Linked DNA regions of Homo sapiens: region 1 is linked to region 2. A link means that fine-mapping ties the variant in region 2 to the expression of a gene that starts in the linked region. Tissue or cell type: non-classical monocytes. Region 2 holds a variant in brackets; the other region holds the start of a gene. All regions are shown on one strand. Distances are from middle to middle.

Evidence for each region. PIP is the estimated chance that this variant, and not a neighbour inherited with it, causes the effect.
Region 1: ATP13A4 starts here. The variant in region 2 is fine-mapped to the expression of ATP13A4 in non-classical monocytes (Schmiedel 2018, PIP 0.95).

What each region holds. Positions count from the first base shown.
Region 1 is chr3:193,552,522-193,557,675 of GRCh38, reverse strand. ATP13A4 (ATPase 13A4) reads left to right here and starts at 2,781. Exons shown (of 30, transcript NM_032279.4): 1 at 2,781-2,936. The coding sequence starts at 2,877. It overlaps ATP13A4-AS1 (ATP13A4 antisense RNA 1), which reads right to left and starts at 4,463. Exons shown (of 2, transcript NR_121666.1): 1 at 4,389-4,463; 2 at 2,092-2,906.
Region 2 is chr3:193,489,679-193,494,832 of GRCh38, reverse strand. It overlaps ATP13A4 (ATPase 13A4), which reads left to right. Exons shown (of 30, transcript NM_032279.4): 4 at 1,673-1,743; 5 at 1,836-1,916; 6 at 3,435-3,504; 7 at 4,969-5,103. Among named protein-coding and RNA genes, the nearest start is that of ATP13A4-AS1, 61 kb to the left of the region's middle. The variant G/C (reference allele first, on the strand shown) is at 2,938.

The DNA.
Region 1 (5,154 bases), 63 kb before region 2:
CGGATTGGGAGAGCTGCATTGCCTAGGTCCGAATACTCATTCTGTCACTTACTAATGGTTTGAATGTAGGCAAATTACTTAATGTCTGCACCTGTGTTTCCTTGTCTGTCAAATAAGAATGACCAGAATAGTATCAACCACAGAGGCTTTTGTCAGGATTGTGTGCAACAGTGAGTGTAAACTGTTTAGAATTGTGCCTCATATGTGGAAGTGTTCTGTAAATGTTCTCTTTGCTTTCCCACACAACCTAGCCCTGTTTCTGGTTATGGTTATGTTTGTAGACCAAAATCACTAAATGAGGGTGAGTGCTGTCCATAAGCAGTGTTGCCATCGATAAAATCTAGATGTTTTACCAATAGAACTCCCAAGGAACCTGAGGAAACTCTCTCACTACTGGAGTCCTCAGCTCTATTGAACCAGGTTTGTGGAAAATAATTTTCCATGGACATCTGATTTTTATAAAAGCTTTTAATGTTCTTAAGGACTTACATATTTTCCTGTTCAAGTTTAGCTTAAATATTGTAGCAGCATGACCTGATTTATTTGATGGGGTAAGTTTGTGTACAGTTTCTCCTCTAGCTGTTAATCAGTTACACACTCATCTCAATCCCACAACGGTGCAAGAGTTGCCAAGTGCATTCAGGAACCCAGCCAAAAGGAAACTGCAAATATTGCCAGTGATAAACAGGAGAATGAATTACTTCTTTCTCACCTGCCCAGGAGCACTGATATAGTTTCACCACGTCACATACTAACACTCCTCAACCTCCATCAGTTGAGATGAAATTTGGAATATGCTTGTTTTATATTTTTTTCTGTACTAAATATATAATTACTGCCTAGTAAGGCTGTTAAATGTTCAGTTAGGTTTTTTTGAGGTATAATTTTTTATTGAGGTATGATTTTTAAATTTGTTATATCTCTTCATTGAGATATAATTCACATTTCATAAAATTCACCCTTTTAAAGTATAGAGTTCAGTGAGGTTTAGTATGTTCACAAATTTTTGAAGCCATCAGTAGTTCTAGAACATTTTTATTACCCCCCCCATAAACCCTTTACTCCTTATATTTTGACCTTGTGATAAAATGTTAATTTTATTTTCATTTATTTGGTTAAATTGTGCTAGCAAATTTTTGAAACCAAGAGAACTACATATATATATACACACACACACACACATACACACACACGTACATATATATTTTGTAATTACTATTACAATGGGTTTACTTAGCTTACTTTTTATGTTTATCCTATACTTCACTATTTGCTCAAGGTTTTACACATACAACATATACACACACACACATGCACACATTGATCTTGGTCACATTAGGGTTATTTGGGTCAGGTTGGAGATATCATTGCCAATGTAGCTTGAGGGACAGACAGTGGACATGGTGAAGGTAAAAATAACTATCTTTTGTGGAACACCTATTATTTCCCAGGCACTCTTTCTTAAAAGTCTGTTTTAGGACGTAGGTTCTATTATCATCATCTTTATGTTACATGTGAGGAAATAGAGGAGAATGGAGTTTGTATAACTTGTTATATCCCAAGGTAGCACAACGACCACCTAGTACAGTCCAAATTTGAACTCAGGCCTTCCAAATTTAGTGTATATGCCCTTAGCCACTATGTCCTAACACCTACTGTTCAAATGCACATTTAGTTTAATAATCCTAACAGCACTTGATCAGTGCTGTACAATGTACTTTCACAATGATCTCATTCCATTCTCTCAAAAGTCCTGTCGGGCGGTACCAGATGAGAAGAGCCGGTTCCTATAGTTAAATGATCACACAGCAAGGCCAGTGCAGACAAGCAGCTGGAATACAGGTATTTTGCCAGAGCTAGGGTAGGGGTGTGTTTCTCTACACCACATTGGGACTTCTGACAGTTTTCTTAGACTTCTGTTCCATCTCTTATAATAACAATCCACTTTCTATCATATTTGTTTGGATGTTTGAATCCTTACATCAACACGAGGGTAGCAAATATGACTTAACTTTTTTAGGTAGTCCCTGTGCTCAGGCACTGTTTATTGAATAAATGTGTAAACAAATTAAAAAAGAGTCTGGCCATATAGTCATTTGAATATTTTATTTCTAGACTTCCTTAAGTGTTGAACCATCAATATTTTAGTGAAAGGAGACTACATAGACTAGTTTGATGATACCTTTGTTCTTTTTCTACATGTGTTTCAAAAAAGTAAACTTAATTTCACATACACTTTAAATAGAATTTTTTTTGCATATACAAGGAAATGTGATTACAAATACCTTTTGAAGAGGATTAGTGATAATCTGTACCTTTTGTAAGCAAAATGAATGAGAGTACTATTAGAAACCTGTGGATTGAAGCTTTCATTCATCAAAGAAAATCTGCAGCTCTGTGCGCTTCCGCTCAACCCAATTCCTTAGGTCCTCTGAATAAAGCAGTGACCTGGGAGTTCTTGCACCCGCTCCTCACTCCTGAGAAGGGTCCTGCCAACTCTGTATTGTCCTGTTGGATTTGCAGTCAGAAGTCTGAGGCTGGCAGGCACTGGGCAGGCAATGAGTTCTTTCCCTGTAAGTTGGGCACAAAAAGATCGGCATGGGAGCAGCCTCCTTTGAGACAGCTGCTCTGAGAGAATGCAATAAGCAGGGAGCAGCCAGCAATTCCTCCTAGCAGAGGGCGACTCGTGGGAGGAGTTCAGTTTGCCAAGTATTGTCATTTGTTGAGAGAAGGTGTGTGCTCAAGGAGGAGTTTTAACCTGGAGGATCATTAACTCTTTTAGTCAGCTGAGGAGCTGCGGTGGCTCGGCGAGTTGGAGTTCATCCTGGAAGCGTCTGCACGACAAGGTCAGGGAGGAGGTGTGGAATAACTTTTTCATGGGACACTTTGAGAAGGGCCAGCACGCTCTGCTCAATGAAGGAGAAGAGAATGAGATGGTAAGATTCTAGCCACATTCCCTTCTTCCCATCCCACTTCTCAGCCTGCGAGACACACACACACACACACACACACACACACACACGCACGCATCACACACACACAGACTTTTCTAAAATTTCACTCTGGTATTACACGAGAAAAGGTCATGTTTGAGAAATCTCTCTATCCTGTAAATATAACCTCTGACAGCAGAAATTTGCTAGAATGAAAATATTGTATTCATCTTGTCAAGAATGTTTTCTTTTTAAAGAAAACAGAGAGGGAGAGAAGCACCATGCACTTTATGATTCTTGTTTGAGCCTCATTGGTATAGCCAGTTCTGTTCAAAACACCTAACAATTTTAGGAAATCCCTAATGTGAGGAGCAGTGTATTCCCTGATAGGAAGAAGCAGAAGTTCAGCAGTGAAGCAGAAGTGCAGCTGGGTCTTTGACCTTCTCTTCTCAAATGTCTTGTTCACCGAGTCTGTTGGACAGGGAAGACATGCAATATTAACAATTATCAGCCTACACACATTTCTGTTTTCTTCTAGAATTTTACTTTTGTGGCTTCCTCATTATAGAGATTGGTTACAGAAAACTTTCGGTAGTTCAGTATCTCTTTGATTTTAGATGTGCTTCTATCTTGAGAACTATAGGAAAATCAAAGATGACTTTCATGCTCAGGATGAATTTAAAACTGTATTTCTCAATTACAATATAATCAAGAGAGAGTTAGAAATATGTACTTCTGTTTAATAAGATCTTTCTGCTAATTGTGTAAGCATAGTCTTTTATGCCAGTAATGATGTAATTAAAATGTTAAAATGTGACGCTCTCATTCCATAATAGCATTTAATCTTCCTGGAATTAATATGTAAATAACAAACCTGAAAGATATTTACTTAAAATGTTTTCTTGGTTAATTGCTTTAGCCCTGACTATTACATTCTTTGTTCCTAAACTGGTCTTTCAAGTCTAATCTGCTTACCTGTTCCTATAGCAACAACATTTTTTGGACTTTCAAGAGTAGATCCCTTCTGCTATCAAAGCTGAAAAAATTATAAAGAAGTAAAATGTACATTAATTCAGGTGCCTTTCTTAACCATATCCTTTACTTCATTCAGATTTGACTGCCAAATGAATTGCCTTCAGCCCCTCCACAAATGTCACCAGAAATGGCTTGCTAGCCCACATTGGATATCATCTTTGTTTCTTTAAAGAGTTTTCTTTAGGAAGTGAATATCTCATTACTCTCGATATTAAGTTGAAAAGTTTATCTTCATCTTGAATACTCTTCACCAGAAGGCAGGGGCTCCTTCCTCTGAAACATTTTTTTTCTCTCTCATTTAGAAATACACTCACTCTTTTCCAGTAAACCCCTTTCTGCTCTCAGACAATTTGTCTTTCAAGTCTCAATAAGAATCATTTATTTTCCAGAAGACATTCATGGTTGTAGGGAAACTGTTACCTCTTCCCTAGCATACATATTCCACCAAAGCAATTTAGTTAACAGTTCATCTTCATAATGGCACCATCAGATGCATGGAGAACTCCACGTAGTTTTGTATGCAGCTGAAAGCCCAGTTAGGAGAGGCCCTTTAATATGGAAAGGGACACTGTGTTTTCTGGTAGGCAGCCATTTGGCCAGTAGTCTCAGCAGAGGTGCAGCAATTAGTATGCACTCCTGAGCTCTCCATCCTCTTCTGCCTACAGAAACCTGGCCACCTGCCTGTTGCTGTGTCTGACACTGTGTTCCTTTTTAACTCACTCCTCCATCCCTTGCCCAGAGCAGTAAACTTTAAAAATTATCAAGCTATATATATAGTCTACATATTTTGTAGTGATTTTTAGTATACACAGCATTTTCTTGGCCACTAGCTAATTTAGTTTTCCTCACAACCCTATGAGGTAGATGCTGTGATTCTAACTTTAAAGATGAGGAAATTGATGCACACAGGCTTTCCCTAAGGTTGCATCAACCAGTAAGTCCAGGAGCTGAGGCACCGCACAGGTTAGTTTAAGTTGACAGCTCTTTTGTCTCTGGACCTGAACATAGCCCACTGATACCTTTTCCAGTTCTTCCGGAGAACATTCCACTCTTAACAGAACACATTCCCTTCCTTCATAAAACAAAGCTAAGGAGAACATCAACATCCAGTCTTCTTAGATTCCCCAGCATCTGTTCTGTTATAGATAATTTGAGTTTCTTTTTTCTTCTAGATAATTCGAGTAGC
Region 2 (5,154 bases):
TAAAAAATCCAGCTCTTTGGGTTTTTTGACCTTTTGTTGTCTCGTTTTATTTACCTGTGTTCTGATCTTTATTATTTCCTTCTTTCTATTAATTTTGGATTTAGTTTGTTCTCATTTTCCCTGAGGTGCAATGTTAGATTGTGTATTTGAGATCATTCTTTTTTGTATATAGGTGTTTACTGCTATACATTGACCTCTTAGAACTGCTTTTTCTGTATCCCATAGGTTTTTGGTAAGCTGTGTTTTCATTTTCACTTGTCTCAAGAAATTTTGAATGTCTCTTTTAATTTCTTTGTTGACCAATTGGTTGTTCAGGAGCATGTTGTTTAATTTGTATGTATTTGCAGAGTTTCCAAAGTTTTTCTTGCTTCCTTAGTGATTTCTACTTTTATACTATTATAGTCAGAAAAAAATACTTGATATGATTTTAAAATTTGTTAAGACTTTTTTGTGACCTAATGTATAATCTATTCTGGAGACTGTTCCATGAGCAGTTGAGAAGAATGTATATTCTGCAGCTGTTGAATGGAATGTTCTGTAAGTGTCTATTAGGTCCATTTGGTCTAGAGTGTAGTTTAGATTTGATATTTCTTCGTTAATTTTCTGTCTGAATGATTTGTTCTTTGCTGTGAGTGAGGTGTTGAAATTTTTTACTATCATTGTATTTCAGTCCATTTCTCCCTTTGGTTTTATTAATATTTGCTTTATATATTTAGGTGCTCCAATGTTGGGTGCATACACATGAGTGTTAATCTCTTACTGAGTTGACTCCTTTGTCATTATGCAATGATCTTTTTTGTCTCTTTTTATAGTTTTCATTTAAAGTGTATCTTATCTGATATAACTATTTCTACTCTTTTCTGGTTTCCATTTTCATGGAATGTCTTCTTCCATTCTTTCATTTTCAGTCTCTGTATGTTATTACTAGTTAAATGATTCTTTGGAGGTAGCATATAGTTGGCTCTTTTTATGTTAGAAAGGAAAATGACTGGGCACTGCTTTTCATTAAAAAGAAAACCTTACCGAGGACTTATGTAGCCTCATTATCTGCCCAAGTAATTTCTTCTTAACTCCTGTATCAATACTTTGGTTTCAGTTTACCTTTCTAGCTTCATTCTTCATTCTACAAACAGGCGTGCTCACTTGCCTTCTTCCCCCAAACTAACTTGTGAACAATCTCTTTAAAATACTTTCTATTTTCTCATCTGAGTATAAGTCTTCCAATCCTTCGACACTGTAACTCATACATCATCTCCATCATGATGCCTTCCATCATCTTCTCTCTCTTTACGTCTACAGCATTTCAAGACCGTATTTTTTATGTTATTATGTTTTTATTTTTTGGCATGGTACATATTGGACTGTATGCCTTGTTTTTGGAATTTTTTCCTCCTTAGTTTATAAAGTAGTAGAATGCAGAGACTAAGTTTTATTCATATATATTTTTCTATATAGTAGGTCCATGATACATGTTGATTGAATGATGACTTCTAATAAAGAATACCATTTGTATGGTAGAAAAGCAAAGGGTAAATTAGAAAAGGATAAAATCTTAAATAAGTATGTTAGAGTTTTATCTTTGCTTTTCAAACAAATGCTTCTTTAGCCACTGGGTTGCTGTTTATTCTCTGATCCTCAAACTAGAGGTTTTCTTAGTACTTTTCTTTTGCAGGTGAGATGCATCAAAGTGCAGAAAATAAGATATGTTTGGAACTACTTAGAAGGACAGTTCCAGAAAATTGGGTAAGTTGTTTTAGCAAGTACAGCCAAAGAAGAAAAATGTTATCTCAAAAATATTATTGCTAAATATGTTCTTTTCATTATTATTATTTTAGTTCTTTGGAAGACTGGCTTAGTTCTGCCAAGATACATCAAAAATTTGGATCAGGCTTGACAAGAGAAGAACAGGAGATTAGGTACCATGCATATTATTGCCTATACTAGCTCAAAAGGATTATTATCAGTTAGCCAAATAGACAGCTAGTAAATAGTTATCTTAATGGATTAATATCAGAAAATATTATAATGCTCTATTTAGTATTATTAAATTAAATCTTTCACATACATTATATTACATCATCTTCACAGCAACCTTATGGGGCAGGTAGAACAGACATTATCACCATTTCCACACAACAAATGAGAAATCTGAGGCTCAGAGGGGTTTCATGGCCGGAACGAGGTCACACAGATGGGAATTAGTAGCGGAAGAACTGAGTCCCACACTCCTGACTGCAGATGTAATGCTCTTTCTACTCCATACAAAGTTTCTCAAGGTTATTATAATATAAAGTTGAGCCATTTTAGGTTAAAATCAAGAAATACATATTAGACCATGATAACGCAGTTAAATAATAACCATGGAGCAGCAGCAGAACACCATGCAAGATGTGTAGCTCCACATTTCCAAATCAGTTATTAGGCAGAGGAGAGAGGTTTAGGGAGGGCACTGGTATGTCAAGAGTCTGTGGGCTTTGAACAAATACCTTTTCCTCTCTGGACCTTTGTTTCCCAATCATAGACATGGGTAGAAGGACTCTTTAAAGGCCTTGCTGTTCTAAGTTTCTATGATTCACATGCTTCCCCCTTCCCCATTTCTAGTACTTTGAAGAGATGTACAGCCTAGCAGAATCAGCATCACCTGGGAGCTTGTTAGAAATGAAGGATCTCAGACCACTTTTCATCCCATTGAATCAGAATCTTCATTTTAACAATATCACCACATGATCTATATAAACATTAAAGTTTGAGAAGCACTGCTCTCATACATTTGACCAAGCTATTTAATCTGAGCATCGAGGTGGAAGACACAGAGAAAGCGGTTAGTGTTTTCAACAGTAACATAACTCATAAAATGTCTTTCCTCTGCATAATCAAAGAAACACATCTCTGGGTTTTAGAGACACTGAATCAAAAAGCTGAATAATTATGTGTGTA[G/C]AGCTATTTTTGAGATCACAGAGCCTTTCCACTCACATTAAAATACATTCTGAAGTTTTCCAGAACTTCTAAATAGGGGTAGGAAAGTAGAAACAGCATTTCCTTATCAATAAAAGTAATTTCTCTTAACTACCTCACTGTCTTACAGTAATAAAACCGGAATTGAGGAGAGACAGAGTTGGGAACATGCCAATCCTGAAAGTACTTGAATGAGACAATATTTAATATTAAATACCCAAAATACCATTTAGGAAAATATTTAGACCTTGGAAAGAGTATGCTTCTAGAAGCAATATGGTCATATTTATCGTTTTTGCAACTGGGAACCCTCACCTCCCATTATTTTGAGAAGGATCAGAATGGTATTTAACAAGGGAGACTTATGTTGGTCTCACAAGTGAGAAAGTGAACATGGAATAGACCTTTTTCTGAATAGGTGAGGAGTCAGTTTTAATTTTATTATTTGTGACAGAGTGATCTGTGATTTCTTTCTATAGGAGGTTAATATGTGGGCCTAATACTATCGATGTTGAAGTTACACCAATTTGGAAACTGCTCATCAAGGAGGTAATTTCTCCAGCATTTTCTCTTGGTGTTGGACAGAAAATAAGGAAGTTTGGCTCTAGTGAAATAATCAGGAGTGCTAATTGTTAATAAGTAACTTCACATAGAGTATATTTTGAAAGTATGCCAAGCATATTATCCTCATATCTCTTGCTTACTCTTTTTCTTCAAGTGGTTCTTTTGCACATTGCCTTATGCAATATAGGGTGTGAAACTCATTGTACTTATTTACCATTTAATGGCTGGATGAATATAATGTTTCTTTTCTTTTTTAATACTATGCTGCTTAACTTGTTTTAACTTCATGAAACTCAATTTTTTTTAAGCTAATCCTTTTGTTAGGTAACAGATACAATTTCCTTGGTGCCTAAAATTGTAGGAAGAAAAAAACCATTTATTCAGCCTTCTCAGTACTGCTGATCTCAAGGTATAAGATGAAATTTTCCTTTTGGACCCCATCACTGAGCTCATCATTGTTTCACTTTACAGCGATTATTATCAAACCGTAGCCCTCTAGCTGTCCTCTGGCTTCCCTGTGCTCTCTCTCGACTCCTCCTTGCCTTAAAACAAGCTTACTAAACTTCAGGTACTTTCAAAATATTTCCAACAAGCCGTCAAGCATGAAAGAAAGTAAAACAAACCAATAGGGAATGTTTCTGTGTGCTGCCTTTCTAACCAGAAGAAAGGTTTGCCATTCCTGTTTTAGAGAGAGGGAAACCAGCTAGGGGGAATTTAAGTAAAGGCACAGCATGTTTTTGACCAAAGCAGAATTAAAGCTGTTGAAGTTCACAGCTACTCTCTCGCACAGTGTTCTAGATGCTCTATTACAGCTTACTGCTTTCAGCACAGCTCTCTACTTATGAGAACATGCAGTCTTCAACTCACCCATTAATCAAGTTCCTTAATGACTTCAAATATGGCAGGTGTTATATCATAGAGAAGAAGAGACTAGAAAGTATTTTAACTTTATAAACCTGAACTAATACTTCACCTTTCTGAAGGCCAGTAAATGTAGACAGGAGGTGACAACATCTACTCCTTAAATAACTATTGTGATGGCCGACATGTCAATACATGAGACACTACTTTGTAAATTATAAAGTGAGGCAGTGATTAAAAGTAAGTGCTCTGGGGTCAGATTGCCTGTGTTTAAGTCTTGGGTCTGTGGCAATCATAGTCGCATGACTTTGGACGTATTTCTCAAGCTCTAAGTTTCAGTTTCTTTATCATTACAAAGGAGATAAGTAACAACTTCTGGTTAATAAGGTAACTGTGGGAATTCAATGAGAAAATTCAAGTAAAGTTGCTTAGAGCGGTGTCTGGCACGTGTCAATTGCCGAATAAATATAATAAGAATATTGTGTGGGATGATGTATGTCATGAAGATGATTATGAAAACAAGTAAATGAAGAGCAGAGTGAAGCCTAAAACTCTCCCTTGTCTTCCTGTTTTTATGTCTGCCAACAGGTTCTAAATCCATTTTATATATTTCAACTCTTCAGTGTCTGTTTGTGGTTTAGTGAAGACTATAAGGAATATGCTTTTGCCATCATAATCATGTCCATAATTTCCATATCTTTGACAGTATATGATCTCAGAGAGGTGAGTTTTTCTATTAATTCTATGGTTTCATAAAGGGAAGGATAATGACTT